Regions from separate parts of the Homo sapiens genome. Here region 1 is reported to be linked to region 2. Evidence: microRNA targets listed by miRTarBase, many of them from high-throughput screens and not tested one by one. Region 2 holds a microRNA gene; the other region holds the end of a gene's coding sequence.
The links. Region 2 holds the annotated microRNA hsa-miR-297 (AUGUAUGUGUGCAUGUGCAUG, at 2,198-2,218, opposite strand). A microRNA usually pairs through its seed, bases 2 to 8, with sites in the 3' UTR of a target mRNA and lowers its output. Matches are read on the target gene's strand: a 7mer-m8 pairs with bases 2 to 8, a 7mer-A1 pairs with bases 2 to 7 and ends in A, and an 8mer does both.

Region 1 (3,109 bases), not on the chromosome of region 2:
CTAAGTGAAAGGAAGCAACATAGAAAGAGATTGCAATGAATATTTATGGTGCACTTGCTCCTCATGCTGAGGGTTCACAGAAGTAGGCAGAGAAACAGAAGACAGACTCTGGGCTCAAGACACTTCCCAGGAACAGTATAGGCGCATGGCAAATACTAAATGGATAGCTGCCATTATTTCCCTTCTCTTCTGCAAGTTCCTGAAGATTTAGAGGACTGCCCACTTTTGAAGATGCAGCATTTTACAGAAAGAACATGGGTCTCAAAAACCATAACCTACTCCAGGAATCCTTAAGGCAGATATCATTTACCTACACTGAGTTCTTTGTTGCCACCCTGTAACAGGCACAATGAGTTTGACTTCATCTCAGGAACTCGAATGAGGAAGCTCGCCCGGGAAGGAGAGAATCCCCCAGATGGCTTCATGGCCCCCAAAGCATGGAAGGTCCTGACAGATTATTACAGGTCCCTGGAGAAGAACTAAGCCTTTGGCTCCAGAGTTTCTTTCTGAAGTGCTCTTTGATTACCTTTTCTATTTTTATGATTAGATGCTTTGTATTAAATTGCTTCTCAATGATGCATTTTAATCTTTTATAATGAAGTAAAAGTTGTGTCTATAATTAAAAAAAAATATATATATATACACACACACATATACATACAAAGTCAAACTGAAGACCAAATCTTAGCAGGTAAAAGCAATATTCTTATACATTTCATAATAAAATTAGCTCTATGTATTTTCTACTGCACCTGAGCAGGCAGGTCCCAGATTTCTTAAGGCTTTGTTTGACCATGTGTCTAGTTACTTGCTGAAAAGTGAATATATTTTCCAGCATGTCTTGACAACCTGTACTCTTCCAATGTCATTTATCAGTTGTAAAATATATCAGATTGTGTCCTCTTCTGTACAATTGACAAAAAAAAAAATTTTTTTTTCTCACTCTAAAAGAGGTGTGGCTCACATCAAGATTCTTCCTGATATTTTACCTCATGCTGTACAAAGCCTTAATGTTGTAATCATATCTTACGTGTTGAAGACCTGACTGGAGAAACAAAATGTGCAATAACGTGAATTTTATCTTAGAGATCTGTGCAGCCTATTTCTGTCACAAAAGTTATATTGTCTAATAAGAGAAGTCTTAATGGCCTCTGTGAATAATGTAACTCCAGTTACACGGTGACTTTTAATAGCATACAGTGATTTGATGAAAGGACGTCAAACAATGTGGCGATGTCGTGGAAAGTTATCTTTCCCGCTCTTTGCTGTGGTCATTGTGTCTTGCAGAAAGGATGGCCCTGATGCAGCAGCAGCGCCAGCTGTAATAAAAAATAATTCACACTATCAGACTAGCAAGGCACTAGAACTGGAAAAGACCACAGAAAACAAAGAATCCAACCCTTTCATCTTACAGGTGAACAAACTGTGATGATGCACATGTATGTGTTTTGTAAGCTGTGAGCACCGTAACAAAATGTAAATTTGCCATTATTAGGAAGTGCTGGTGGCAGTGAAGAAGCACCCAGGCCACTTGACTCCCAGTCTGGTGCCCTGTCTACACCAGACAACACAGGAGCTGGGTCAGATTCCCCTCAGCTGCTTAACAAAGTTCCTCGAACAGAAAGTGCTTACAAAGCTGCCTTCTCGGATACTGAAAGGTCGAGTTTTCTGAACTGCACTGATTTTATTGCAGTTGAAAAAAAAAAAAAGCTATTCCAAAGATTTCAAGCTGTTCTGAGACATCTTCTGATGGCTTTACTTCCTGAGAGGCAATGTTTTTACTTTATGCATAATTCATTGTTGCCAAGGAATAAAGTGAAGAAACAGCACCTTTTAATATATAGGTCTCTCTGGAAGAGACCTAAATTAGAAAGAGAAAACTGTGACAATTTTCATATTCTCATTCTTAAAAAACACTAATCTTAACTAACAAAAGTTCTTTTGAGAATAAGTTACACACAATGGCCACAGCAGTTTGTCTTTAATAGTATAGTGCCTATACTCATGTAATCGGTTACTCACTACTGCCTTTAAAAAAAAAAACCAGCATATTTATTGAAAACATGAGACAGGATTATAGTGCCTTAACCGATATATTTTGTGACTTAAAAAATACATTTAAAACTGCTCTTCTGCTCTAGTACCATGCTTAGTGCAAATGATTATTTCTATGTACAACTGATGCTTGTTCTTATTTTAATAAATTTATCAGAGTGAAGGCTGAGTTTTTTCTGCCTGTACCATTGGGTGTGGGTTGACCACACAACTTAAGGGCTTTGTGACTTTGTATAATTGGAGTGAGACAGCAGCAACTCTCTTGAACATCATAACTGAGATTATTTACCCTTATTCATGTCTTTTTTATTTTTTATTTTTTTAAAGACGAAGTCTTGCTCTGTCACCCAGGCTGGAGTGCTGTGGCACGATCTCGGCTCACTGCAACCTCCACCTCCTGGATTCAAGTGATTCGCCTGCCTCAGCCTCCTGAGTGGCTGGGATTACAGGCATGCACCAGCACGCAAGGCTAATTTTTGTATTTTTAGTAGAGATGGGGTTTCACCATGTTGGCCAGGCTGTTCTTGAACTCCTGACCTTGTGATCCACCTGCCTCGGCCTCCCAAAGTGCTAGGATTACAAGCTCACTGCACCCTGCCTTTTTTCTTGTTTTTCTTTTTTTTTTTTTTTTGCCTGCAGTGGTGCAATCTTGGCTCACTGCAACCTCTGCCTCCTGGGTTCAAGCAAGAGTAGCTGGGATTCATTACTGGGTACATACCCAAAGAAATATAAATCATTCTGCTATAATGACACATGTACACGTTTATTGCAGCACTGTTTACAATAGCAAAGACATGGAACCAACCCAAATGCCCATCAATGATAGACTGGATAAAGAAAATGTAGTACATATGCACCATGGAATACTATGCAGCCACAAAAAGGAATGAGATCATGTCCTTTCCAGGGACGTGGATGAAGCTGGAAGCCATCACCTTCAAAAAACTAACATAGGAACAGAAAACCAAACACTGCATATTCTCACTAGTAAGTGGGAGGTGAACAATAAGAACACATGGACACACAGAGAAGAACATCACACACCGGGGCCTGT
Region 2 (3,268 bases):
AGTAGCTGGGACCATACACGTGTGCCACCATGCCTGGCTAATTTTTGTATTTTTTTGTAGAAAGTGGGTCTCACTTTGTTGTCCAGCCCGATCTCCAACTCCTGGGCTCAAGCGATTCACCCACCTCAGCCTCCCAAAGTGTTGGGATTACAGGTGTGAGCCACAGCACCCGGCCTTTAATTCCTTTTTAATATTCAGATCAAATACTTTTCTTTCTTGTTTAAAAAATAAATTCAGATCAAATGTTGTTGTTGCTGTTATTTTCATATTCTGAATGTGTGGCACTCTTGACTCCTTGAATGCTGTGTGTGCATATAGGTAGATAATTTATGGAGCCGCTGAGGGGATTCCCTCTCATTCTTTCCTGACCCCAAGTCAGGAACTGACTTCCCATGTGGGAGATGAGATTTAGTACCCAGTACTTCAGTCGAAAGCCCATAGGCAGATGTTATGGCTCTATTTGCCTCCCAAAGTTTCCTTCAATGAAAGGACTCAAAGGGGGCACAAGTTAGTTTTCTTCTTAGTGGCCCAAAAAGGTGTGGCGAGGAAAAGAGTATTGCTGAAATATCTGCTTTGAAATTAAAGAAAATAAGACATTTCTTTAGATTAGCTTAGAATAATGAGATGTGAGAAGGAAAGTTTAAGGTATATAAAATGGGGCAATTTATAATTTGTCATAAAGTTGTTATAAGGATGGAATGTGTTATTATTATAAAGAGCTTAGAATAGTTCCTGGCAGAGAGTGATTTTTATTTAAGGGTTAGATATATAGTTAGTATAATCTTTTGGCTACTTTTATTATCAATTGATTATGAGATTGATCAGAAAAGACATTTGGAGATAGAGTGGGGCTGGCAAATGTGATCCCTTTTCCCCTTTTAGACTCTAATTTCTCTTTGCCCCTCTTCTTTTTAATCCTTCAATCTCTCTCTCAGACCTATGACTTGATGCCTGTAGACCCTAGGTAGTGAGATCTGTGTGCCTCTGAGGACTATGATGCAGCACTCCAACAGAAATAGCAGAATTCTGAATAAGTATTCAGTCAGCACGTTACTGTACTAAATGCTTTAGGCAACTGTTACACAATGGCAAGCATTTGTGTATCTAAACATTTCTAAACATATAAAAGGTAAAATATGGTATAAAAGACAAAAAATGGTAAACCTGTATAGGGCACTTACCATGCATGGAGCTTGTAGGACTGGAAGTTGCTCTGGGTGAATCAGTGAGTGAGTGGTGAGTGAAGGTGAAGGCCTAGGACATTACTGTCCACTACTGTGGATTTTATAAACACAGTGAACTAGGCTACACTAAATTAAAAAAAAATCTTCTTTCTTAAATAATAAATTAACTTTAGCTTACCATGGCTTTTTTACTTTATAAACTTGTATTTTTTTACTTTTTGACTCTTTCTGTAATAACATTTAGTTTAAAATATAAACACATTGTATCGCTGTACAAAAATGTTTTCTTTCTTTATATTCTTATTCTATAAGCTTTTTTCTATTTCAAAGATCATATATATATATATATATTTTACTTTTTCAACTTTCTTGTTAAAAACTAAGACAGAAACATACACATAGCCTAGGCCTACACAGGGTCAGGATCATCAGTATCACTGCCTTCCATCTCCACCTCTTGTCCCAGTAGAAGCTCTATTAAGAGTGGAAAACTGGAAATAGTAACACAAATGGAGCTGTAATCTGCTATAACAATGCCTTCTTCTGGATACCTCCTGAAGGACCTGCCTGAGGCTGTTTTATAGTTAACTTTTTTTTTATAAGTTGAGGCAGTATACCCTAAAATAGCAATAAAAGTTTACTATAGTAAATATATAAGCCAGTAACATATTCGTCATTATCAAGTGTTATGTATTGTGGATAATTGTATGTGCTGTAATATTATATGACTGGCAGCACTGTAGGTTTATTTACACCAACATCACCAAAAACGCATGAGTAATGCATTTGCTATTACATTATGATGGCTACGACGCCATTAGGTGATAGGAATTTTTCAGCTCCATTTTCTTCTTATGGGACAACTGTCACATTTGTGGTCTGTCGTTGACTGGAACTTTTTCGTGTGGTTCATGACTATATGATCAATGCAGAAGTTATACCATAGATTAAAAATAGAAATGAAATCTCCTTGATATATGAGTACATAATACATATATATGTATATACACATACATGCACATGCACACATACATACATATGTTCATAAAGTATGTAGAAAGAGATCTTGAGTTGGAAATAAGCCATCGTTCAGGCAGGTGGCCATGGGTTAAAGCTGTGAATTTACAAAATGGGGAAAAGGGAATCAGAGTAAAAAGCTATGCTATTACTCCATATTTAATTTTAATTGTGATGGGTATAGAAGCCCTTTGGCATGAAAGGGAAAATGGTATATATTTTAAATTTTCATGCCAATGATAAATATTTCACATGCATTAAAACCTGTAAAATATATTGTATTTACAGGAGCAAGTCACATTCTAGGGGGAAATTGCCTTTCCTGCAGTTGTATTTTTACATTACCCCAAATACCTGTGAGAACCAATTAGTCTCCACAACTTGCCATGTTCCTGTTAAGTGAACCTGGCACAGGAACATCCAGCTAATCCTTTGGCAGCCTTGTGTGAAGTACTTAGGAAGCCTGGTGTGTCCTTCCTCCAACCTTACAGCATGGGAGCCAACTCTGGCCACTGTTGGCCTGTTATTGTGCAGTGGTGAATTTCTGACACAAAATGAGTTGTGGAGATTACTGAGGAAGGAACGCAAAGTGATTATGTGGTCTCTCTTTTGGGCCTGATCTTTAGACCTTCAGAAAAATTGGCCTCAACCTTACAAAGATATGGACAAGGAAGCCATTCCAAACACGAAGTACTCCATTGTATAAAGTACAAAAATGAGTAATACCATCATTAAGAATAAAATATTCTCAAACAAGAGCCTACTGATTAAGAATGGAAAACTGGGCTGGGCGCAGTGGCTCATGCCTGTAATCCCAGCACTTTGGGAGTCTGAGGTGGGTGGACTGCTTGAGGTCAGGAGTTCAAGAGCAGCCTGATCAACATGGTGAACCCCCGTCTCCACTAAAAATACAAAAATTAGCTGGGCATGGTGGTGGGTGCCTGTAATCCCAGCTACTCTGGAGGCTGAGGCAGGAGAATCACTTAAACCCGGGAGGCAGAGGTTGCAGTGAGCCCCTATCGCACCATTGCACTCCAGGCTGGGCGACAGAGCAAGACTCTGTTTCA

Region 1: the mRNA of PAPSS2 is a reported target of hsa-miR-297. Seed matches in the 3' UTR shown: 8mer at 656-663.

The regions. Positions count from the first base shown.
Region 1 is chr10:87,745,488-87,748,596 of GRCh38, forward strand. It overlaps PAPSS2 (3'-phosphoadenosine 5'-phosphosulfate synthase 2), which reads left to right. Exons shown (of 13, transcript NM_001015880.2): 13 at 345-2,218. The coding sequence ends at 483. Among named protein-coding and RNA genes, the nearest start is that of ATAD1, 71 kb to the right of the region's middle.
Region 2 is chr4:110,858,427-110,861,694 of GRCh38, forward strand. It overlaps MIR297 (microRNA 297), which reads right to left and starts at 2,221; the gene lies at 2,156-2,221.